7 linked regions of the Homo sapiens genome follow. The protein of the gene in region 1 interacts with the protein of each later gene in a biochemical or structural test. Each region holds a gene or a part of one and is shown on either strand. Other genes may lie near its edges. The genes, in order: PIAS1, PML, L3MBTL2, SIAH2, SUMO2, MDC1 and HTT.

What was found.
Region 2: of the proteins of PIAS1 (region 1) and PML, one has a biochemical effect on the other in vitro, tested with the Homo sapiens proteins (one study listed by BioGRID).
Region 3: of the proteins of PIAS1 (region 1) and L3MBTL2, one has a biochemical effect on the other in vitro, tested with the Homo sapiens proteins (one study listed by BioGRID).
Region 4: the proteins of PIAS1 (region 1) and SIAH2 form a complex in vitro, tested with the Homo sapiens proteins (one study listed by BioGRID).
Region 5: the proteins of PIAS1 (region 1) and SUMO2 form a complex in vitro, tested with the Homo sapiens proteins (4 studies listed by BioGRID).
Region 6: of the proteins of PIAS1 (region 1) and MDC1, one has a biochemical effect on the other in vitro, tested with the Homo sapiens proteins (one study listed by BioGRID).
Region 7: the proteins of PIAS1 (region 1) and HTT form a complex in vitro, tested with the Homo sapiens proteins (one study listed by BioGRID).

What each region holds. Positions count from the first base shown.
Region 1 is NC_000015.10:68,057,315-68,060,814, reverse strand, and holds part of PIAS1 (E3 SUMO-protein ligase PIAS1), read right to left. Parts: intron 3,336-3,500; exon of another isoform or gene 3,286-3,335; coding exon of another isoform or gene 3,235-3,285; intron 1-3,234. UniProt on the Homo sapiens protein: Functions as an E3-type small ubiquitin-like modifier (SUMO) ligase, stabilizing the interaction between UBE2I and the substrate, and as a SUMO-tethering factor. Catalyzes sumoylation of various proteins, such as CEBPB, MRE11, MTA1, PTK2 and PML.
Region 2 is NC_000015.10:74,039,716-74,043,215, reverse strand, and holds part of PML (protein PML), read right to left. Parts: intron 228-3,500; coding exon 77-227; coding exon of another isoform or gene 36-76; exon of another isoform or gene 1-35.
Region 3 is NC_000022.11:41,208,312-41,211,811, forward strand, and holds part of L3MBTL2 (lethal(3)malignant brain tumor-like protein 2), read left to right. Parts: intron 1-810; exon of another isoform or gene 811-1,384; coding exon 1,385-1,622; exon of another isoform or gene 1,623-1,640; intron 1,641-3,500. UniProt on the Homo sapiens protein: Putative Polycomb group (PcG) protein. PcG proteins maintain the transcriptionally repressive state of genes, probably via a modification of chromatin, rendering it heritably changed in its expressibility.
Region 4 is NC_000003.12:150,743,398-150,746,169, reverse strand, and holds part of SIAH2 (E3 ubiquitin-protein ligase SIAH2), read left to right. Parts: intron 1-2,772. UniProt on the Homo sapiens protein: E3 ubiquitin-protein ligase that mediates ubiquitination and subsequent proteasomal degradation of target proteins.
Region 5 is NC_000017.11:75,172,960-75,176,459, forward strand, and holds part of SUMO2 (small ubiquitin-related modifier 2 isoform a precursor), read right to left. Parts: intron 1,865-3,500; coding exon 1,793-1,864; intron 1-1,792. UniProt on the Homo sapiens protein: Ubiquitin-like protein that can be covalently attached to proteins as a monomer or as a lysine-linked polymer.
Region 6 is NC_000006.12:30,714,482-30,718,585, reverse strand, and holds the start of MDC1 (mediator of DNA damage checkpoint protein 1), read left to right. Parts: upstream 1-1,304; 5' UTR 1,305-1,341; exon of another isoform or gene 1,342-1,644; coding exon of another isoform or gene 1,645-1,704; intron 1,705-2,878; exon of another isoform or gene 2,879-2,998; intron 2,999-3,407; coding exon of another isoform or gene 3,408-3,410; coding exon 3,411-3,546; intron 3,547-4,104. UniProt on the Homo sapiens protein: Histone reader protein required for checkpoint-mediated cell cycle arrest in response to DNA damage within both the S phase and G2/M phases of the cell cycle.
Region 7 is NC_000004.12:3,207,181-3,210,680, forward strand, and holds part of HTT (huntingtin), read left to right. Parts: intron 1-100; coding exon 101-177; intron 178-1,592; coding exon 1,593-1,731; intron 1,732-2,646; coding exon 2,647-2,769; intron 2,770-3,500.

The sequences.
Region 1 (3,500 bases):
CTACTCGGGAGGCTGAGGCAGGAGAATTGCCTGAACCCCGGAGGCAGAGATTGTGGATCCTTGAAACTATGTTACCTCCCAATTTAAATGGCAACACTTTGTTTTGAGATTAAAAATATGGTAAAGTCTTATTTCCATTTTCTCTATATTAATGTTCAGTATAGTGTTTGTTTTTTGGGGGATTTTTTGTTTGTTTGTTTTTGAGACGGAGTCTCACTCTGTCGCCCAGCCTGGAGTACAGTGGCACGGTCTCAGCTCTCTGTAACCTCCGCCTCCCAGGTTCAAGCAATTCTCCTGCCTCAGCCTCCTGAGTAGCTGAGATTACAGGTGCGCACCACCACGCCCGGCTAATTTTTGTATTTTTAGTAGAGATAGGGTTTCACCATGTTGGTCAGGCTGGTCTCGAACTCCTGACCTCGTGATCTGTCCACCTTGGCTCCCAAAGTGCTGGGATTACCACGTCTGGCAATGTTCAATATAGTTTTAAAATGCCAGTTAAAAACTGATAAGCATCAGCTGGGCGTGGTGGCTCACACCTGTAATCCCAGCAAAACAAAAAAAACTGATAAGCATCTAAATAAGGTACAAAAACTTGCAATATGTGGTCACTGTGATATAATTTCCAAAATCAAACATACTTGCCTACTTGAAATTCTACTATTCATAGAATAGTATGAATAGATTATAAAATACTACTTCATAATCGATTTCATACTTTATCAAACATTCTGATGCTGAAGTAATGTTTGCTTACATTTTGTAAAACCTGTATCTGCCATCATTTAATAATCTTATCTCACATATTACAGAAACATAAACAATAAAGGTATGACAATGAACAAACCAAGAATGACTAATTTATTTCACTGACAACATTTTAGCTAATTTTGTAGAGTGGGTGCAGTGGCACAGTACCTCACACCTGTAAAAACCGAGCACAGAGGCACAGTGTCTCACACCTGTAATCCCAACACTTTGGGAAACCGAGGCAGCACTGTTTGAGGCCAGGAATTTGAGACCAGCCTGGGCAACACAGTGAGACCCCTGACTCTACAAAAATAAAATAAACATTTGTATTGCTTTCTTTTTTTTTTTTTTTTTTTTTGTTTGAGACGGAATCTCACACTGTAGCCCAGGCTGGAGTCCGGTGGCGCAATCTCGCTGCAACCTCTGCCTCCCAGGTTCAAGCGATTCTCCTGCCTCAGCCTCCTGAGTAGCTGAGATTACAGGCGCCCACCACCACGCCCAGCTAATTTTTTGTATTTTTAGTAGAGACGGGGTTTCACTATCTTGGTCAGGCTGGTCTTCAACTCCTGACCTCGTGATCCGCCCACCTCAGCCTCCCAAGGTGCTGGTATTACAGGTGTGAGCCATGGCATCCGGTCCTGCATTGCTTTCTAAAGCACAAAAAAGATCTGTCATATCAATATATTTAGTTAAAATAAAACATCTGCAAACTTTGGTACATGTCTGCAAACACACTGCAAAAAAAGGAGAATAATCTGGGCCTGGCGCGGTGGTGGCTCACGCCTGTAATCTCAGCACTTTGGGAGGCCGAGACGGGCAAATCACAAGGTCAGGAGATCGAGACCATCCTGACCAACACGGTGAAACGCCGTCTCTACTAAAAACGTACAAAAAAATTAGCGGGGCGTAGTGGCGGGCACCTGTAGTCCCAGCTACACCGAAGGCTGAGGCAGGAGAATGGTGTTAACCCGGGAGGCGGAGCTTGCAGTGCGCCGAGATCGCGCCACTGCACTACTGCCTGGGCAACAGAGGAAGACTCCGTCTCAAAAAAAAAAAAAAAAAAAAAAGTAGAATAATCTGACAGGGACTAGTTTAATAAAACACAATGTAAGGTTTCAAATGATCATATAGACCTGTATTTACTAACCTGGATAGACATGAAAATAGCAGATTATAAATAAAAAACAGTGTTGTATCTTTTTATGATGAATATACATATACATATGCTCACAGAGAGAAAGTCTTAAGTGGATAAATACCCAGATGTTAACCATGATATCTCTGAGTGTTGGGATTACAGGTACTGTTTATTTTTCTGCTTACTTCTCAGATTCTCTGAAATTTTCTCAAGCAAAATGATACTTACAAAAATTAATGTGTATGATTCCAACTAACAAACTCCAAACTTTTTGCAAGGAAGCTTGCAAAATGCCCTAGAATATCCAAAAATACCCTAGCATAGAGCTTTTCCAAAAGGGAAAGTATCAGCAACAACATAAGTAGAAATCTGTGAACTGGGCACCCTAGAGGACTCCAGGTCTGCTGTAGGACCTTTAAGGAGGACTACACAAGACCTAGGCTCAAGTCCCTGCCACTTTTATTTGTATGACCTTGCAATAGTCACGTACCCTTTCTGGGCTCACTTTCTCTATCTATAAAAAGGATTTAGTTATTACTTGCCTTTCCTACCTCAAAGAACTGTTGGAAAGATCAAAAGAGATAATGCAATATATTATGAACTGCAAAGTACTATATAAGTAAGATATTATTATTCAAACATTAAAAAAGCAAGATGCTTCATGCCAGAGTCAAACACTTCAGAAAACACCACAATCAATTCTATGAAGTAATGAATCCGTTTTTGGTTGTTGTTTTGAAAGGCTACATCTCATCATAAACACCCAGTTTTTCTGAGACTTGGATACTTTTTCCCAGTTCCCGCTACAACCATTGGCCATTTTATTTTCTTATCCCTGGTTACCAGCAAAAAAGGGTACAAATTACACTAAACTCAAAAGCCTCAGCAAGAACCCTGGAGCAGCATGCTGATGGAGTTCACCAGGAGACACCCAAGGTTAATCAGCTATGGACTCGCCACTAAGCACTACCGCAATCAACAGGGATTACAAGAAACTCTTTGAAGAAAAAGACAATGGGATCGCCCAGGAGAAAACGGTGGATGAAAAGAAGGAGGTATTTCAAAACAATCATATGAAATACTTAGAAACTATACGTAGTATTTTATAAACTATACTGTAGAGTTTTTAAAATACTGTTGATAAAAATAATGACATAAAACAAAAGCCATCTAAATGTGGCACTTGACAAAAGCAAGTTATAGAGATTCAAATCAAATCCATGAATAAACTATCAGATGTACTTGACTCTATCTGAAATAAAAGCAGACAAATTACAGCGTAAGGATCAAAATTAAGTAGCTATTTCTTGAAAATAAAGAGGCAGAAAATAACAATAGAATTCACTGACACACTCATAGTAACTTTTATAATTATGGTTTCTCTTCCCATTTAATTTCATTATTTACTCCACTAAAATGCTGATGGACTTCTTCTCTCCCACTCTTCTTCCTGTAAATTAAAATGGCACTATAACTTGGTTTGAGTTTTACTCCAAAAAAACACATATTTTTTTTTAAATTACTTTAAGAGGAGTTTCATGAAGCTGTCAGCTTATTAACTACCAAGATCATCTGGCCATCACACCCTCCTGCTTCTAAGTTCCTAAAGATGACA
Region 2 (3,500 bases), 6.0 Mb from region 1:
TGGCTCTGCCTGCACTTCTTTTTGGGACTCAGAGACTAAATTAGAAAGGGGTGGGGGTAGCCCCAGGAGAACCCACTTTCATTGTCAATCTTGAGGTCAAAGAAAACCAGAGGTCTGTCTTCTGCTTGGGGGTCAGCAAGGTTCTCGTCCAGGACCCTGAGGGTGCTGGGGCCTTCCAGCTGGAGGTCACTGGACTCACTGCTGCTGTCATCCAGCTCTCGGGAGGACTGCAACACAGAAAAACCAAGCGTCAGGGATTCAGAGGGCCAAGGCAAGCACCTGTGCAGAACACTAGCAAGCTGGTATAGCTGGGAGCATCTGCGTGCACATGAAGGAGGGTGTACCACTGGGAAAGGGGACGTGTGCACAAGAGAAGGTATGTGTGCATGAATGGGTGTGAACTGGGTGTGTCACATGTGAGGGTTACATGTATGAACCAGGGCATACACCCTCATGAGTAGGGGAGGAAGGGTGACACACACAGGTTGTGAACGTGCATGTGTGGGAATGAATCCAAGTGCTAAATCTGTGTGTGCATGCACAGTTAAGTGTGAGCTGTGAACCTGCGTTGACACAAGTGTATGAAAGTGTGAGAGAAAATGCCAGTGGGTGTGTGCATGAGTGTGCTGTGCTGCTTATGGAGGCTCAGGGAAGGAGCCATCTGCTATGGCAGGCAGGACCTGAGATGTCTGCTCCTAATTTCATCTTTCTGAGCAGACTCAGAAGAAACACCAAAACTTGGGACGGGAGAAAGAAGCCTCATCTTGAACCCCAGATGATTCTTTGGAAGGGGTCGGGAGCCTGCCTTTTCTTGTCCCCGAAGTCAGCCGAGGTGCCAGTGTCCTACACAAAGGCGAGGGGAAGGACTGCTTGGCCTCCTGAAGGCCACATCTAGGTGGACACCCAGGTCCTTGGCAGTGAGAGAGCAGTGGAGGCTCTTGGCATCTGCCCCAGCAGCTTAGAGAAACCTGAGTTTTGGGAGTCCTTCAGGTGAGGCGTTCTCTCCTGTCCCAAGGTCCTGGTGGGAACACTGTTCGAGAAGCCATGGGGTGGGGAGCCAGAGGATGAGGGAAGGGCTCCAGCTCTGAGATTTTCCCAAGGGACTGGGACTACAGAGGGAGGTGGAGCCTCTGATGGTAATACAGAGTTAATTGCTTATCATCTGCTCAGCTGCCAAGCCCAGATGTTTAGTCTTTGATGACCAACTTGGAACCTCCCATGAATGCCACCTGTGGACGTTAGCCAGAGACCAGCAAGGAAGAGACATGGACAGGATCACAGGGCCAATTGGGAGCATGGCTGGGACAGAGTCCAGGGCAGGCCTTGGGTTTTTCCTCTTTATGGACTGCCGCTGGCTTCTCAATGAAGTTGGTGTCACCTGGTGCTAAAGCCTCAGTTAATTCTGGCCTCTGGCTAATGTCCCTGGCCTAGGAGGCAGCACATTTCCCCAGACCCTTCCAATGCCCAAGTGAAACATCTGCTTCCAACCAAGCTTCAACTGAGAGAAAAAGCGTTTCCACCCACAAGTAACCTAAGATGTGGTGGGTTTTTGTAGGAGTGGCTGGATTTCACTGGATTTGCATTTCACAGCCCTGCTCCAGGCTCATCAGCTTTCTGCCAGTTATTGTCAGAAGCAGACACTCACTATGAATCCATCTAGAGCTGGCTTTGCCTCTTCATATCCAGGGATCTAGTCAGAGAGTCTGCCCAGCGCCTCGCATCTCCAGATCCTCATTCAGCCACGCTGTCAAAAGCTGATTTCACACGTCTTGCTCCGGGTGAGCCCACACTGCTGTCTCGCCTTTCCAACTCGGTTTCCTCCCTGTAAGGAGCCTTCTACAAGGCGTCTTCCTAGCTTGTAGCTGGGTGGCTGGAGACTCCACCTTCTCCCGCTTTGGGAGAATCCAGTTGTTTCCTCTCTCCAGGCTTCACTGGGCAGCAGCGCTCTCCCACAAGCTGGTGGAGGGGCTGGGCTCCCCTTCTGGGTCCTCCCTGGTTCAGATCCTTGGTGCCAATAGCTGAGGCTGAGTCCATGCTGCCACCCACTGACATGGCACACAGGACTTTCTCTTTTTCGTTCTTCTTCCTGCTCCAAACCCAACTGGAAATGCCCCTTTGTGTTCCTGAGTGCCTCCACAAAGCTCGGGGCAATGTCCTCGGCCTTAGAACCAGTCTTCCCGCCTTCAGATCTGCTCTTCCAAGAGGAGAGCTCCCTGGAGAGCCACAGTACTGTCTCTTTAGGCCACCCCTCCCATCGTTACAGCAGGGTCATTTATGGCAGCCACTAGAACCTCGTTTTTAGAGCCTTCCATTGTCCCGGGGCCAGGGAAATGTCCTTTGTCCTAAACTTACTCGAGCTGCCTTCTCTAAGAAACCTCTACTGTCTCCTTTAATAAAAGGACACCCCCTTTCCACCAAGCTTGTTAATGGAGGAGAGGCTGGACCTTTCAGCCCTGACTCACTTCCTCCAAAATTCCTCTTGCCCTTGGGGACTTCCATAAAGTATGGCCACCCATGGAGCTGGTCTCACTGGAACTCCAGCCAGCTGTAAACCCAGAATTCTCCCCTGCTCCGCCTTAAACTCCAGCATCACAGCTGGGGAGTGCTGACGCATTTAAACAAGACTTTCTGAAAGACTCAGGTTTGCCAGCAGGGCCATCAGACATAGTGGCCTGGTGCAGAACATACTCCCCTCCCTGCTCACTAGGGGAGACTCTCCCATTCTGCCCCCAGGCCCCACACCTTGGCCTTATTCCGCAAATTAGGATAACTGGGTGTCGGGGGAGCATAGAGAGGGACAGTCACTGGAAAAGACTTAGATTTGCTTGGAAGAGAAAAGGAAGGGGGACAGAAGAAAGAAGATGGGAAACAGAGCCTTGAGCCTGCGTGTGAGGACCGGGAATCAAGGGGGAAAGCTTTGCTATGCAGTGAGAGATGCCAGGCGCCAAAGAAAAGGGGAAGAAGGACTGAAGAAGTGCTGCTGGGGTTATGAGCTGGATTCCCTTTAATGTTCTTTCAAAAGATGCAAGTAAATACTGGGATTTATTTCTTTATTATACTTGGTTAATGGACATTGTTTCTTTGAATGCAAAACTGTGTTCAGGCTGAGCCTCGTGAGAGCCAGGATTTTTTCAGGATATACATGCAACTTGGATACACCTGCAATCTGGCTCATGAGCTACATCCATCTCACTCCCCTTCCTCATAGATTTCACGGCCTGAGCAGGTCAAGTGCATTCTAACTCAACACAGCAGGTCTAACAGTCGTCCCAAGCATGCTCAGAGGAAGTGGCTGGATTGGCATTGTAATCACACTCCAAAAGTCCAGGAGGTACATCAGGGAAGATCCAGCCTCTCCCCTCCTCTGCGGTATTACACCCTGGTATGAAAATGTCACCTGCATTCAAGACTGCCACATCTATAAACAAATGAGCAGCATTCCTCTACCACAGACATGCAATGAATCCCCCGATTCAGTGGTTCTTGACTTTGGTTAGGCA
Region 3 (3,500 bases), on another chromosome or scaffold:
TAGAGATGGGGTGTGGCTGTGTTGCCAAGGCTGGTCTCAAACTCCTGGGTTCAAGCAATCCACCTGCCTCAGCCTCCCAAAGTGCTGGGATTACAGATGTGAACCACCGTACCCAGGCTCTTCACACGTTTTCTGTTACATGCTGGGTAGATTCATATACATTATCTCATTTGCATCTCACGAGTCAAATATTTTTATTTTATAGATGAGAAAGTTGAAGCCCACAGAAGTTAAATGACTTGCCCAAGGCCCTATAGCTAGTTAGGCTCAGAGCTGAATCTAGCGCTGTAGTACACACCAAGATGCCACAGTTATCTGTGTGTCATCTGCCTCTCCCATCCTCTTTGGAGCAGTCTAGGTCCCAAATTAACTTTTCTGTGACTTAAATTGTTTCTGAGTTGAGATCATTTTGATGTATATTGAACGGGGAAGAATTTTTGTTTTTCTTTTTGAGACAGCATCTCACTCCATTACCAGGCTGGAGTGCAGTGGCGCGATCTTAGCTCGCTGCAACCTCCACCTCCCGGGTTCAAGCAATTCTCTGCCTCAGCTTCCCAAGTACCTGGGATTACAGGCACCCGCCACCACACCCAGCCAATTTTTGTATTTTTAGTAGAGACGGGGTTTCACCATCTTGGCCAGGTTGGTCTTGAACTCCTGACTTCGTGATCCACCCACCTTGGCCTCGGAAAGTGCTGGGATTACAGGTGTGGGCCACTGTGCCTGGCTAAGAATTAATTTCTAATATATCTTCTACCCCAGAAAGTCTTTGTGAAGTACCTTAGGATATTTCACTTTTTTTTTTTTTTTGAGATGGAGTCTTGCTCTGTCACGCAGACTGGAGTGCAGTGGCACGATCTTGGCCCACTACAACCTTTGCCTCCTGGGTTCAAGCAATTCTCTGCCCCAGCCTCCCAAGTAGCTGGACTACAGGTGCCCGCCACCACGCCTGGCTAATTTTTTCTTGTATTTTTTTGTAGAGACAGGGTTTCACCCTCTTGGCCAGGCTGGTCTCGAACTCCTGACCTCAGGTGATCTGCCAGCCTCGGCCTCCCAAAGTGCTAGGATTACAGGCATGAGCCACCGCACCTGGCCCACATTGTTATACAGTATTCTATTTGAACCATGTTAAAATATCATCATTTGTAAATCCACAGAGGAGCCTGGTGAATTCCTAACACATATTTTCTGTCTTGTTAAGCTGTTGAATTGCATCATGGTGGAGAAATGTGTAAATAGAAGTAATGATCTTGGTGTTTGTAAAAGGGGTATTTGAAAGGTTCCCGAAAGTGTGAGGGGGCTGATAGCAGATCTGCAGCTTCTCCCCCCGTGCACTAAAGCCAATCATAATTCTTTCTACCTGGTTTGTGTCATCCTCCATTAGGAGACCCCATCTTCAGAACCAATGGAGGAAGAGGAAGATGACGACTTGGAGCTGTTTGGTGGCTATGATAGTTTCCGGAGTTATAACAGCAGTGTGGGCAGTGAGAGCAGCTCCTATCTGGAGGAGTCAAGTGAAGCAGAAAATGAGGATCGGGAAGCAGGGGAACTGCCGACCTCCCCGCTGCATTTGCTCAGCCCTGGGACTCCTCGCTCCTTGGATGGCAGTGGTTCTGAGCCAGGTGCCTTCAGAGTGTCCCCTGAGGATGGAGAGGAGATAGAAGATTATAGAGGAAGAGGGGGGTGGATATAGGCTATATGGGCAGAGCCATCCAGATGTAAAAGGCTATTAACTCTGATTTCTAAGGGATCAGATGTGTAAGGACCTGTAAGGGAGACAGAAGCACCCCAAGTAGCCACTGTGTTAACTTCCTTTGCTGAAGTCTAATTTCTTTTTTTTTTTTTTTTTTTTTTTGAGACTTGAGTGTCGCCCTGTTGCTCAGGATGGAGTACAGTGGCATGATCTCGGCTCACTGCAACTTCCACCTCCTGAGTTCAAGTGATTCTCATGCCTCAGCCTTCCAAGTAGCTGGGACTACAGGCACCCACCACCACATCCAGCTAACTTTTGTATTTTTTTGTTTGTTTGTTTGTTTGAGACGGAGTCTCGCTCTGTTGCCTAGGCTGGAGTGCAGTGGCGCGATCTCGGCTCACTGCAAGCTCTGCCTCCCGGGTTCACACCATTCTCCTGCCTCAGCCTCCTGAGTAGCTGGGACTACAGGCGCCCGCCATGACGCCCGGCTAATTTTTTGTATTTTTAGGAGAGACAGGGTTTCACCACGTTAGCCAGGATGGTCTCGATCTCCTGACCTCGTGATCCACCCGCCTCGGCCTCCCAAAGTGCTGGGATTACAGGCGTGTGCCACCGCGCCAGCCTAACTTTTGTATTTTTAGTAGAGGCGGGGTTTCACCATGTCGGCCAGGCTGGTCTCAAACTCCTGAACTCAGGTGATCCACCCACCTCAGCTTCCCAAAGTGCTGGGATTACAGGAGTGAGCCACTGTGCCCGGCCCTAGTCTAATTTCAAATTGTGACTTCACTCATTCTTTCATATAACTAATGTGTATTCAGCACAGATTAGATGCCACTGAGTAGCATGGTGCTGCTTTTTTGTATAAGTATACCATGGATTTCCAACGTGGATGTTGAGAAGATAGGAAACCTAAAGTGTTTTGGTTACTTTCTGAGAAGGGACAAATAACTTGTGGTTTGGAAGTCAGGGTGGGAGTGGGAAGGTAATACACGATAAAGTGACCCTGGGTAGGAGGACTGGGTTGGGGGCGGGCAGATGAGAATCCCTATGGATCATCTGGAAGCCAGTTGACTTTGGAAATGTGATGCTTGGACAGCTGCTGAACCCCTGTGTCAGGGCCTCCCATGTGTGGGCTGCCTGTGAAGAGAGGCAGGCTGGATAGTCTGTGAGGACACTGCCATCCTTTAGATCCCAAACTTTTTTTGTTTTATTTTGAGGCAGGGTCTCACTCTGTCACCCTGGCTGCAGTGCAGTGGTGTGAAAATGGCTCACTGCAGCCTCGACCTCCTGGGCTCAGGCAATCCTTCCACCTCAGCCTCCTGAGTAGCTGAGACTACAGGTGCACGCCACCATGCCTGGCTAATTTTTGTATTTTTTTTTTGTAGAGACAGGGGTTTTGCCCTGTTACCCAGGCTGGTCTTGAACTCCCAAGCTCAAGTGATCCCCCACCTCAGCCTCCCAAAGTGCTAGGATTACAGGCATGAGCCACCGCACCCAGCCCCAAACTCGTTAGAAGAGTAATCTAATACTCTTTGCAGTTGAATCTTATTTCCTTTTTTTTTTTTTTTTTGAGACGGAGTCTTGCTCTGTCACCCAGGCTGGAATGCAGTGACATGATCTTGGCTCACTGCAAGTTCCGCCTCCCAGGTTCAAGCCATTCTCCTGCCTCAGCCTCCCCAGCAGCTGGGACTACAGGCGCCTGCCACCACACCCGGCTAATTTTTTTTGTATTTTAGTAGAGACGGGGTTTCACCATGTTAGCCAGGATGGTCTCGATCTCCTGACCTTGTGATCTGCCCTCCTCGGC
Region 4 (2,772 bases), on another chromosome or scaffold:
CACCTGCCGCAGCCTACCCAAGTGCTGAGATTACAGGTGTGAGCAGCGCGCCTGGCCTCCTTGAGGTTTTATCCCCACTGTTTCCTCCACTCACCCTGTGCTAGAACCAGATGGAACAACTCCATCCACAATCCACTTGTCTACAATAAAGCTTTCCTTACCATGTCCTCCTCACCCTGTCCCACCTTGAAATCACCTGTTGCCCTCCTGGTCTTCCTTTACATAGTTGTTAAATTTATTATATGGTCTTTCTCAACTGGAAACACCACAAGGGCAGGATCCACAGCTGATTCCTTCTGTGTGCTCTAGGATAGAGGTTCTCAGCCCTGGAAACTCTTAGAAACCCTTGGAGCTCTTCAAGAAAACACAAGCCCAGGCTGGGCACAGTGGCTCAAGCCTGCAATCCCAGCACTTTGGGAGGCCGTGGCGGGTGGATCACGAGGTCAGGAGATCGAGACCATCCTGGCTAACACGGTGAGACCCCGTCTCTACTAAAAATACAAAAAATTAGCTGGGTGTGGTGGCAGGCACCTGTAGTCCCAGCTACTTGGGAGGCTGAGGCAGGAGAATGGCATGAACCCGGGAGGCGGAGCTTGCAGTGAACCGAGATCGCGCCACTGCACTCCAGCTTGGGTGACAGAGCAAGACTCCATCTCAAAAAAAAAAAAGAAAAGAAAACACAAGCCCAAGGCCAGGGGCCAGTGAGACTTGGCTTTGCTGCTCAGAAGCACCTAGACAGTTTTACATACAGTCTTGGGGAATTCACAAACTACTAAAGTCCTCCCTCGGATCCCTGGATGAGAGCCCCTGATGAAAGTGACAAAACACCCATGGTGCTCTGACATGCCATTCCAGAACAATGCCAAAACTGCTTGAAGTATGAAATGTGGGGTGTGTGTGTGTGTGTGTGTGTGTGTGTGTGTGTGTGTAGGGGGTTAAAATTTAGACTTTAGTCATCATAAAAGTGGCACCAGTTGTTATGAAGACATGAACCTTACCCATGATGGAAAGAGAAGGGATAGATTGCCATGAAAGTTCTGCTTGTTCAGTAAAAGCAGAGTAAGCACCTAAGGCTTTAAAACTATTTATTTAAGTTAATAGAGGATGTAGCAAGATCCTTATGAAAAAACATGAGATCGTTGTCCACACAAATGCAAAGTAATGCCTTTTCTATTTGTGCAGTTTGGGGAGGTTCCCTGTTCTGTATATTTGGGTGGAAAGAAGTGTTGAATATGTGATTTGTAAGGCAAATCAAATAATTCAGAGTATAAATACTCCTACTTGAGTGGGGAAAGTTATAAAATGATTGCCAAGTGATAAATATTTGCTGTAAATGTTGAGTTCGTCATGAATGAGGAGTGGTTTGGGACTTTGGGCAGAGGTGCAGCTGGTACCTTTCTGGGTGCCATTGGCCAAAGTTCATCTCATTCCTGGGCAGCTATGGGGAAAAGTTCGTCTTGAAACATCTTCAGATATTGAGAGCTTGTTTCGAGACTCTGCCAGGCTCTGGGCTATTTCTTGCTATTTTTATTGTGTGTGTGTGTTTTTTTAAACTGGACAGAAATGTCTCACCCATCACTCACAGAAGAACATGAGGAGGCTCTGTATTCCTAGCCACACCCTAGATTTAAAACACAGTTAATAGGGATTTGTTTTTCAGGCCTTATAAAGTAAGGAACACAAAGTATGAATACACATGGATAAATAAATTTGTTTCTCCTGAGTGAGTTTTTTTACAGCCAGGCTTTAGAAATTAGTTCAGAGTTTTAAAAGATGAACAAACAATTCCTATGGGCAAATAAGTAACTGAAATATTTCTGCCAATTTCTGTTAAATATTATAATCCGCTTAGGTATGGGGAAGTGGGGGTTGGAGGATGAGCTACATTTCTTTCTTTAAGCCACTCTCCTTTCCGATTAGGGGAGACTAATCCCCCTGAGAGTGGAGGCTGTCATCCTTGCTTCGGAATCCTCTGAGTGACTGTAACTTAGCGTCTTGTATGGAGAAGTCACATAGTGCATACCATCTGCTTGTTGCTAGTGATAAATTCATCTATGAAGGTTAGAATTTGACCGACTTCAAGTTTAAAAGGGGGATTATTCTATAAAGCAGGGTAGAGAGAAGCAAAAACAGCAGTGGTGCTTTTTTTTTTTTTTAGCAACTGGACATAGCATCTTAGAAAAATGACCTGGCCTTGCCCTTATTTGGTGCCTTCATGTCTCAGTGGAGCAGGGGAATCCAAGTGTAGTTAGCCAGACAGTTCCCCTGCCATTCTGTGCTCCAGGGGTCTAAGGCTGACACCTAGTTTCACCTGAAAAGGTGATTCAGGTTTCTTAATTCTTTACAGAACAGCTTAGTACTCAGGGCAGGTGTCTACTTGTGGGCTGATCTCCATCTGGTATCTAGGAATTAACACTGTCATCCTTGTGAGAGTCTGGAGTAGAAGTTCAGTTCCTCTTGGTGTGGTCTTTTGCCACGGCAGGTATGATTTATCCATTAGGAATGTCATCCCAAGTGCAAGGGAGAAAATGATTTTGTTCTCCTACCCTATTAAGGCAGTGTCTGAGGGGCAGACTGATCATGTCAGCAAACTTGTCTAGTTCTGCTTCCTCCCGGGCCTGTTGTGAGGACCTGACATACCTGACCATGAAATGATGTGCTCTTGAATCTGAGGAAGTGTTGGGGGTCAGCAAGCTTTGAGAGGAGGGTTAGGCCCTTCTCATGTTAACCTCTACTGGCCAGAACCAGACTGACCAGTAGTCTTCTGAGTTA
Region 5 (3,500 bases), on another chromosome or scaffold:
TTCAAAATATTCTTCTTTTCAGTACAACTCAGGGGCTTTTCCAATTTTCAAAGATTATCAACAAAACTACAATCTGGATGTGCTGCTTCATGCCACATTTATCACTTTCTAGTTTTTACTGGGTGATAAAGTTGAAATTCAAAAGTACATGGGATCCAATTTAAATTTCTACTATCACAACATTGTAAAATATGTTTCAGAAACTGTAAGTCTTCTATTTTTGAGACAGAGTTTTGCTCTATCGCCCAGGCTGGAGTGCAGTAGTATGATCATAACTCACTGCGGCCTGAAACTCCTGGACTCAAGCACCCCTCCCACTAAACTTCCCAAGAAGCTGGGACTACAGACACATGCTACCATGCCCAGCTCTTTTTCTTTCCTGTAGAGACCAGGTCTTGCTATATTGCCCAGACTGGTCTTAAACTCCTGGCCTCAAGCAACCCTCCTGCCAGTGTCAGTTTCCTAAAGTGATAGGACTACAGGTGTGAGCCACCAAGTCAGGACAAGACTGGAAGTCATTTTTTTTTTTTTTTGAGAGAGGGCCTCACTTTGTCACCCAGGCTGGTGTGCAGTGGTACCATCTTGGGTGACGGCAGCCTCCACTTCCTGGGCTCAAGCAATCCTTCCACCTCACCCTAAGAAGTAGCTGGTACTACAGGCACGTACCACTGCTCCCTGGCTAATTTTTGTATTTTTTTGTAAAGAGAGGGTTTTGCCATGTTGCCCAGGCTGGTCTTGAAATCCTGGACTCAAGTGCTCCGCCCACCTTGGCGTCACAGTGCTGGCATTACAAGCACTTTGTAATCTTGAAAATGGCTCTCATGAGCCACCCTGCTAGGACAAAACTGGAAGTATTTAATGGAACTTTGAAAGGGTAAAAAGAAACAAAGAGCTTCTGCCACAGAAGACAATCCAGCTGATCCTACAGAAAGTGACAGAACAAAATGAAGTGGTACATAAAGAGTTAAAGGATCAGAGAGCATCACGTTTTGTAGTAAGGATCTGGAAAATCTCCTATTATCAGGGGCTCTCCCTGTCAAACAAAGCTATGGGACGTGGCAATTAGGGCTATTAGTTCCTTTTTGTTCATGAAGACACGTAAAAGAGAATTTCAATTCAGCATGTAGAACTAAAATGGTGAGGATTTGGCTGGGTGCGGTGGCTCACACCTGTCAATCCCAACACTTTGGGAGGCCAAGGCGGGCGGATTACTTGTGGTCAGCAGTTCAAGACCAGCCTGGCCAACATGGTGAAACCCCATCCCTACCAAAAATACAAAAATTAGCCAGGCATGGTGGTGCATGCCTGTAATCCCAGCTACTCTGGGAGGCTGAGGCAGGAGAATTGCTTAAGCATGGCAGGCGAGGGCTGCCATGACCCAAGATCGTGACACTGTACTCAAGCCTGGGCGATGGAGTGAGATTCCGTCACAAAAAACAAACACAAACCACTGGTGGGGTTGGGCACATTGATTCGTGCCTATAATCCCATCACTTTGGGAGGCCAAGGCTGCAGTGAGCTATAATGAGGCCACTACACTTCAACCCGGGCAACAGAGAGGCCCTGTCCCTAAAAAAATAATTAAAATGAAAATTAAAAATAAATGAATAAAAACCATTGGCATTTCCTGAGCCTATTCCTATTTTCCTTTCTGTTCCCCTCTGGTCATACTTCCCAAAGCTCTGAACTCTACAAGAACTTATACTCCAGTGTCTAAACGTTCAAATTCATAAACACAGCTGTTCAAAGAATTACAAATGGTAATTTTTCTAATTAGGAGAGATTTTTTTACCTGTGCAGGTGTGTCTGTTTCATTGATTGGTTGCCCGTCAAATCGGAATCTGATCTGCCTCATTGACAATCCCTGAACGAGAATTTAAAAGCAATAAACAGCATTAAGAGAAACAGAATTCTATTTACATAAAAGTACATGCATATTTAACCATGAATATATTAAAGAAATACCTAAATAAACAATTGCCAACATGTTAACATACCCTATAGGTAAAAAGATTTGGGGTGATTTTCATTTTCTTTTTTTTGAGACAGTTTTGATCTGTTGTCAAGGCTGAAGTGCAGTGGCGTGATCTCAGCTCAAGGCAACCTACACCTCCTGGTTCAAGCGATTCTTCTGCCTTAGCCTCCCAAGAGTAGCTGGGACTACGGTCCCCCGCCACAACAACCGGCTAATTTTTGTAGTTTTAGTAGAGACTGGGTTTCATCAGGTTGGCCAGGCTGGTCTCGAACTCCTAACCTCAGGTGCTCCGTCCGCCTCAGCCTCCCAAAGTGCTGGGATTACAGGAGTGAGCCATGGTGCCCAGCCTCTCATTTTCAGTGAACAGTAAGATGTAGTATTTTTTTTCCTTTTCTTTTTTTTTTGAGACAGAGTCTTGCTCTGTCACTCAGGCTGGAGGGCAGTGTCGCGATCTCGGCTCACTGCAACCTCCACCTTTTGGGTTCAAGCAATTTTCCTGCCTCAGCCTCCTGATTAGCTGGGACTAGGCAGGCGCCACCATGCCTGGCTAATTTTTGTATTTTTTAGTAGAAACAGGGTTTCGCCATGTTGGCCAGGCTGGTCTCGAACTCCTGACCTCAGATGATCTGACCACCTCAGCCTCCCAAAGTGCTGGGATTACAGGCATAAGACACTGTGCCCGGCCTGTTTGTTGTTGTTGTTTTTGTTTGTTTGTTAAGACAGAGTTTTGCTATGTCGCCCAGGCTGGAGTGCAGTGGTGCGATCTTGGCTCACTGCAACCTCCGCCTCCTGGGTTCGAGTGGTTCTCCTGCCTCAGCCTCCCGAGTAGCTGGGATTACAGGCGCTTGCCATCATGCCCAGCTAATTTTTGTGTTTTTAGTAGAGACAGGGTTTCACCATGTTGGCCAGACTGATCTCGAACTCCTGACCTCAAGTGATCCACTCACCTCAGCCTCACAAAACGCTGGGATTACAGGTGTGAGCCACTGCGCCCAGCCAGTAAGTCATTCTTTTAGAAAGCTTTACTGCTTTTCAGACACAGCTACTATAATGTTAAATAGAACATACCTTGAGACAAATATGCATTTAAATGAGTTAGACAAGGAAATGAAATTTTTTTTTTTTAAATGGAGTCTCGCTCTGTCGCCCAGGCTGGAGTGAGTGGAACAATCTCAGTTCAACGCAACCTCCACCACCGGAGTTCAAGTGACTTTCCTGCCTCAGCCTCCTCAGTAGCTGGGACTACAGGCTCATGCCACCATGCTGGGCTAATTTTTTGTATTTTAGTAGAGATGGGGTTTCACCGTGTTAGCCAGGATGGTCTCAATTTCCTGACCTCGTGATCCGCCTGGCTGGCCACTAACAGGAAATTTAAAGGAAAAAAATGCCCATTTAAAGACTCCAGTCTGAGCTCGGGGGCTCACACTGTAATTCCAACACTTTAGGAGACCAAGGCAGATCATCTGAGGTCTGGAGTTCAAGATCAGCCTGGCCAATATGGTGAAACCCCGCCTCTACTGAAAAT
Region 6 (4,104 bases), on another chromosome or scaffold:
AATCCCAGCACATTGGGAGGCCCAGGCGGGAGAATCACCTGAGGTCCGGAGTTTGAGACCAGACTGACCAACATGGAGAAACCCCGTCTCTACTAAAAATACAAAATTAGCCGGGCGTGGTAGCGCATGCCTGTAATCCCAGCTACTCGGGAGGCTGAGACAGGAGAATTGCTTGAACCCAGAAGGCGGAGGTTGCGGTGAGTCGAGATCGCGCCATTGCACTCCAGCCTAGGCAACAAGAGCGAAAGTCCGTCTCAAAAAATAAAATATAGATGGCCGCATGCGGTGGTTTACGCCTGTAATCCCACCACTTTGAGAGGCCGAGGCGGGCGGATCACCTGAGGTCAGAAGTTCGAGACCAGCCTGACCAACATGGAGAAACCACGTCTCTACTAAAAATACAAAAATAAGCTGGGCGTGGTGGCGCATGCCTGTAATCCCAGCTACTTGGGAGGTTGAGGCAGGAGAATCGCTTGAACCTGGGAGGCAGAGGTTGCGGTGAGTCGAGATCGCGCCATTGCACTCCAGCCTGGGCAACAAGAGCAAAACTCCATCTCAAAAAATAGATAAATTAGTTAATTAAAAAATAAAAATAAATGATTTTATGATCCTTCCCTCGCCCCTCGAAAGGTGGGGACAGCCTTTAAGACAGAGAGCAAACCAGTTTTCTCTGTTCGACTACAGATCTTTAGGATCTTGGATTTAAGAAAATGACCTCAAAATGTCCGTCAGAGACGTATTCCCAGGAAGAAAGATATTACTTCTACTACAAACCAAATCAAAAGGAAATGAAATTCCAATGCAACAGGAGTGAACTGCCACGCCTACGGGCTGTTCTCCAAACTGCAGCCTCCAGCCACGACTGCAACGCGCAACCCACTTTCATTTCTCATGAGTCAGCGGACACCATGTCTAGGAGGACCGAGGAAAGGCGCTCTGGCCTTACCAGACACGTCGGACGTCTATGACACAGCCCCTCTATCCGTTGCCGGCAGCTGGCGCCAGACTCTCTGGTCGCGGTTTGGAACTGCGCGGGAAGTGGGTGGTGGGCGGGCAAGCGGTAGTGGGTTGTCCCTTGGAGCTGCCCAATCGACGTGCATTATTCTGTTGGCGCACGGCGGCCTTCAATTACCGTCTCATTAACTGATCTCAGCAGCCTGGGAGACACCACCTATTTGAACTCTAAGGGGGCGGGGCTTTGGGTGTGCCTCCGCTCGACTGGCTGCGGTTGTGAAAGACAGCGGCAGAAGCCAATCAGCAAATAAGCTCTTTTTCGGCACACGCAGTCGCTCCACCTGGGTCGCGACCGTTACTGGTGGCGCGCGCGGGGACTTAAAGTAGGTGAGTTCTAGGGGCCTGGCCCACGGCTCCCCGGGAGCCATCTTGGTTCCCCCAGAAGGCGGGAGGGGCGTACCTTGGGTGCGACTGGGCGGAGGTGACTTGGAAGTTCGCTTCTCGGACTGTAATACTCATCCTTACCTGGCGCCCCGCTCCGAGTTTAGGTATGAAGACACAGGGAGACGTCGGGCCACAAGGGAACCCACTGAGGTGGGGACCAAAGATGGTGGCTCTTTGAATTGGAGCCAAGCGTGGTGGGCACCCGCTGAGTTGGCCTGTCATAAAGACGGAGTTGACACTTTATCCATGGGGCATCCTACTTTCCCTACCTGTCAACAGTTTCCCTCTAGAGTGGCATATTTTCAGGTGAATTCCATTTATGCTATTTTCTTTCCATCTCATTTGTTCCTTCATCAGTAGGCTCGGTGATGAGCCTTCCCGAGGGCAGGGTCGATTTCATGTTTGGTTCACAGATGTATACCAAATACTTCAAACAGGTATACCATAACCATTGAATGAATATGATGGACCCTAGGGGAAAGACACGGTTCCCCTAATCCAGTCCTGGAGGTGGGTGAGTGTGAAGGCAGAAATGGAAAGTAATGGTTACAATATAGCGAGAGATCTTAGAGTAAGCACAAATCCATTGACCACTGTGGAACAGGCAGGATACACCAGGAACACGAGAAGGCAGGGAACACGCCAGGAAAGGGTTTGCTGAGAAAGTGACATTTGAGGCCGGGCGCGGTTGCTCACTGCTGTAATCCCAACACTTTGGGTGGCCAAGGTGGGCGGATCACCTGAGGTCAGGAGCTCGAGACCGTGGTGAAACCCCGTCTCTACTAAAAATACAAAAATTAGCCAGGCGTGATGCCGGGCGCCTGTAATCCCAGCTGCTCGGGAGGCTGAGGCAGGAGAATCGCTTGAAGCCTGGAGGCAGAGGTTGCAGTGAGCCAAGATAGCACCACTGCAGTCCAGCCTGGACGACAGAGCGAGATTCCATCTCAAAAAAAAAAAAAAGAAAGAAAGTGACATTTGAACTGAATCTTAAAGGATGGTAGAAGTTGGACCAGAAAACTAGGTGGGAAAAAGCCAAGGAATTGGGCTAAGGCATGAAGATGTGGGAAGACAAGAACAGTGTGTTCGAAGACTGGGGAAAATGTCTGGCTGAACCATAGGCTTTTGCGGGCGAGGGGTAGGCGTTACAAGATGTGAAGTTCAGATCATGGAGGGTCTCGCTAAGGAGTTTAGATTTTATTCTGTGTGCACGAAAAACCATCAAGATTTTAGAGGAGAGACATCTGAGTGATTTGGGGCAAGTCTTAACCTTATATATGCTTATGTATGTTTCAAGGAGATCTGAAAATCTTAACCCAGCTATGTTGCAGTTTCTTTATCTGAAGAAATGGAAGATAGTAATACTACTTTACAAGGTTCTTGTGAAGATTAAATGAGTCAGAGTCGATATAAAGTAATTAGAACAGTGCTTGACACATAGGAAGCTTCTATATATGTCATCTTTTATTATCATTTTTTGCAGTTGCATCTGATCAAACTGAGGTGGTCTGGTAAAAGTATAAAAAGCATGGGCTAAAAAAGAAAGAAAAACAACGGGGCGCAGTGGCTCACGCCTGTAATCCCAGCACTTTGGGAGGCCAAGGTGGGCGGATCACCCAAGGTCAAGAGTTCGAGTCCACCCTGGCCAATATGGCAAAACCCCATCTCTTCTAAAAATACAAAAATTAGCCAGGCATGGTGGCAGGTGCCTGTAATCTCAGCTACTTGGGAGGCTGAGGTGAGAGAATTGCTTGAAACCCGGGAGGCAGAGGTTGCCGTGGGCCCAAGATCTTACCACTGCATGCCAGCCTGGGGAGCAGAACGAGACTCCATCACAAAAAAGAAAAAAATGTTTTAAGTGCTTCAGAAGGTTAACAACAGAAAGATTGGTGGAAAGAGAAGCATCAACGTTCATAATGATCCAGTTTACCCCCTAGTTTTCAGTCTGATAACTCTGATGCTGTTTGTGTGAACCAATAATGAGGATAATTGATAATGTGTATCCTTCCCAGATCATGGAGGACACCCAGGCTATTGACTGGGATGTTGAAGAAGAGGAGGAGACAGAGCAATCCAGTGAATCCTTGAGGTGTAACGTGGAGCCAGTAGGGCGGCTACATATCTTTAGTGGTGCCCATGGACCAGAAAAAGGTCAGAGGGTATTGGATGTTCAAGTATTGATATAGATCTTTTATTTTTGTGGTAAGGTATTTGGAGGGTTGCAAGAAGCTTATGTATGTTTCAATGAGATGTGAATTTTTTTTTTTCATGAATGGAAGAGATGGGGCCGATTGAGTTGATAGTTGCAGACTACTACCCTGGACTCACTGGAAGTGATTTTACTTTGATAAAAGAAAATTAAGAGATTGAAATGAAGCTGGGTGCAGTGACTCACACCTGTAATTCCCGTGCTTTGAGAGGCCAAGGCAGAAGGATCACTTGAGACTAGGAGTTAGAGACCAGCCTGGGTAGCATAGCAAAACCCTGTCTCTACGAAAAATTTAAAAATTAGCCAGGTGTGGTGGTTCATTTCACATCTGCAGTCCCACCTACTTGGGAGGCTGAGCCAGATGATCACTTGAACCCAAGAGTTCAAGATTGCACTGATCTATGATCATGACACTGCATTCTAGCCTGGGTGACAGAATGAGACCCTGTCTCAAAAAAAAAAAAAAAATCAAATAAAATCCAATTGTGTGCTCTGGAGAT
Region 7 (3,500 bases), on another chromosome or scaffold:
AGGATGAACTGTACACATCAGTTCATCCTTTTTAAATGAGCATGAGGTTATTTTGGGTTGTTAGGTGTTACAAACACACTAATGTGTTTTTGTCTATTAGAGCAGCATGGCCCAGTTGCCAATGGAAGAACTCAACAGAATCCAGGAATACCTTCAGAGCAGCGGGCTCGCTCAGAGGTAATGCTGGAAACACAGGTCGTCCTTGTGTTAGGACAACCCAGGATATAAAGGATATAGATTTGTACGGGAATAAATTCACAGGACAAGAAATCGATGTGCCTTATAGGTGGGTTTACTGCAGAAGTGCCATAATAGAACCTTCCTACTTTTAAAACAACCAGATCTCACTTTCTAAAGAGTAAAGGATGACCGGCAGGATCACGTCTGTGACGTGAGTGGAGGCAGTTTGCACTCCTGGTGGCTGTTTGAGAGGTAGCATTTAGAATGCCTGTATTCACTGTCCTGTGATGAGTGGGAAAATAGGTTATCAGGTTTATCTTAGCAAAATCAAAGCATGTCATCTAATTGCTAAACAAGAGTTGGCAAATCTGAGAGACATTACTCAATCCTTGGCATGCAGGACTTACATCTGCATCCTGTTGCCATTTTATGTCTTCAAAGCATTTAATCATTTAGTTGTGTTTGCAAAGTCTTTGAGAAGCCTTTGTCAGAAATCCCTACATCTCCTATGTGAGTGTATTTCCATGACTGCAGAATAAGTTAAACTTTTACCTTTTTCCTTCCCTTGCGGGGCGGGGTGGGGGGCAGGGATTGTGTGTGTGAGAGGGAGAGAGAGACAGCAGAGAAGGAGAATATAATTATCATGCTGTGTACTTTGAGCTGAAACTGCAAAAAAGGAAAAACACACAAAAATTATTATGCTTTTCAGTCTTTAGAGTACCTTGTCTATTATGCTTTTCAGTCTTTAGAGTACCTTGTTGATGGTGTTTTTAAATGGGATTGGGCACAATTAGGTGGACAGTTTGGGATGATTTTTCAGTCTGTAGGGCCAAGCTCTTTTGTAATTTGCATTATGAAGTTGTCACTCTCATAGCAGATGGCGGGAGATAAACTATTATTACTTTTTGACCCTAGACTTAGTCTTCAGTCCAGATGAGGGAGATTAAAAGATTATAAATATCTTGTGCCAGATGAGGTGATTTTATTTTGAAATGACCATGAATTCCTATCAGTTGTCTTACTGGGATATTTGATAGTGGAATTTGTGCATTTGAGTCTTAGATGATCTGTTTTACATTTATTAAGAAAGCCTTTATTAGCTTTTATACTGTGTATTGCCTGTTGCAGTGTTTGAGTATAAATGAAATTTCTGGAAAATATTAATGGAGTACAAACTGTGATACTTAAAAGTAAACTAGGGCCTGCATTTGTATCATGACCTGTTTGAGTATTGATGAGAAGATAGCTGTGAAGAAAAAGGTTTAAACAAGTGTATTTTCCTTTAAGAAGCCACTAATAGTGCATCTCCTTAGAGTGTATATTTCTAGAATCCTAGTGTGCAGAGTTTAGACTAAGACTAAAAAAAAAAAAAAACAAATTATACTGTAATTTCATTTTTATTTGTATTTTAGACACCAAAGGCTCTATTCCCTGCTGGACAGGTTTCGTCTCTCCACCATGCAAGACTCACTTAGTCCCTCTCCTCCAGTCTCTTCCCACCCGCTGGACGGGGATGGGCACGTGTCACTGGAAACAGTGAGTCCGGACAAAGTAAGTGTCCAGCGTGTCTGCATGGGAGGCACAGGGCGCTGAGTGCCTCTGTCACCTGTGGCAGATACAGAGAGTGCAGAGGAGGTGCCGTGGACCCAAGGAGTTCTGGCGCTCGGCTCGGCTCAGTGAAGCTGTGGTTAGAGACGTGGGGGGCCATCAAGGTCTGAGGGAGCCAAGCAGTGCTGATGTGGGACCCTTTTGGTAGGAGTGTGGGGTGAGTAGTTAGTGGGTGAATCAAGGAATAGTCGGCCGTGGCCTGCAGGCCCCTGACTGCACAGGCCTTCAAGCACATGTCAATGCCGTTAGCCTCCCTCCATCTCCTCATACCTTCTGGCCACCTGTGAGTTGCACTGCCACTGCCAGCCATTCTGGTATGTTGTCAGCACCTCCACTGCTCATACCTCATGGTTAGGGACCACCTGGAGCCTTGGTAGAGCCTTGGTAGAGCCTTGGTACTCTACTTTCCTGGACAAAGTTCAGCTTATGAATATGAATTTAGATTTCAAAAACCAGCAGCCCAAGTATAAGAAAGCGAAGGTTCAGTCCTGCCTTCTTAGGCTCTATTCGCTAAGCACCTGCCCTGCCCTGGTTGCTGGGGAGAGATGAGTAAAGCAGACAACCCAGGAGAGGATGGCAAAGGGGCCGCTAACCCTTAGTGGTTTAGCTATATTTGGAAGGCCTATTGGAAGTTCACCAGGTGAAGGGGGAGGCTGTGAGGGTGCCCAGGCAGGTAACAGAAGTCCAAAGGGGAAAACCTGTGGTGTGGTGAGCCGTATAGCCACAGCCTGCCGGCCGGCAGCCCTCTCAGCCTAGTGCGGTGTTCCCAAGCACTGGCCTAGGCCTGTAGCTCCAGGGATGTGAAGTCCCCTTGAACGCCGCCCATCATGTTCCCCTTATCCATTTTTTTCTTCCCAGGACTGGTACGTTCATCTTGTCAAATCCCAGTGTTGGACCAGGTCAGATTCTGCACTGCTGGAAGGTGCAGAGCTGGTGAATCGGATTCCTGCTGAAGATATGAATGCCTTCATGATGAACTCGGTACGGGGGGAGCAGTGGAGGCAAGGAATCCTCAGCTTTTCTTGTGACTTCCAAGTGGGATTTGTCTCATCATCATGTGACCCACTTGTTGACAACACATGTTGGGGACTCCAGTCTGGGCAGGGACGGGATGTCGGAGAGACTCCACTCTGAATGGGGCCGGGAAGTGGGGAGGACTCCATTTCAGATGGGGTCGGGACATGGGGGTTATGCTGATCGAGACAGAAAAGCACATTGTTTCAGCCACATTAGAATCCACGGAGGTGTTGTTTTGAAATCCAGCTGGCCCCAAGGCTGGGTGTATGGTTTGGGATGAGAACTATCTGGCCTCCACTGGAGGAACAAACACAGGATGTTATCATCTAAGCTCCATGGCCAAGACAGAATGGAAGTCAAGGTTGCGTATTTGCCGTAGACTTCAACACAGTGTCGTAATGCGTGACGTCAATAACTTGTTTCTAGTGTCTTGGAAGTTGATCTTTAGTCGTAAAAGAGACCCTTGGATGCAGCGAGATTTCCTCTACTCACACCTCTGTTAGATGTAGTGAGGTTCTTCACCCCCCAACCCCAGATGTCAGAGGGCACCCTGCGCAGAGCTAGGAGGCCATGCAAAGCCTTGGTGTCCCTGTCCCTCACCCGTGGGCAGGTCCTGTGAGCAGTGGGGGGGCCACCTCTTGGGTATGGTGCAGCCATGGCCCAAGCAGGGCTTCTTCTCAGACCTACTAGGACGG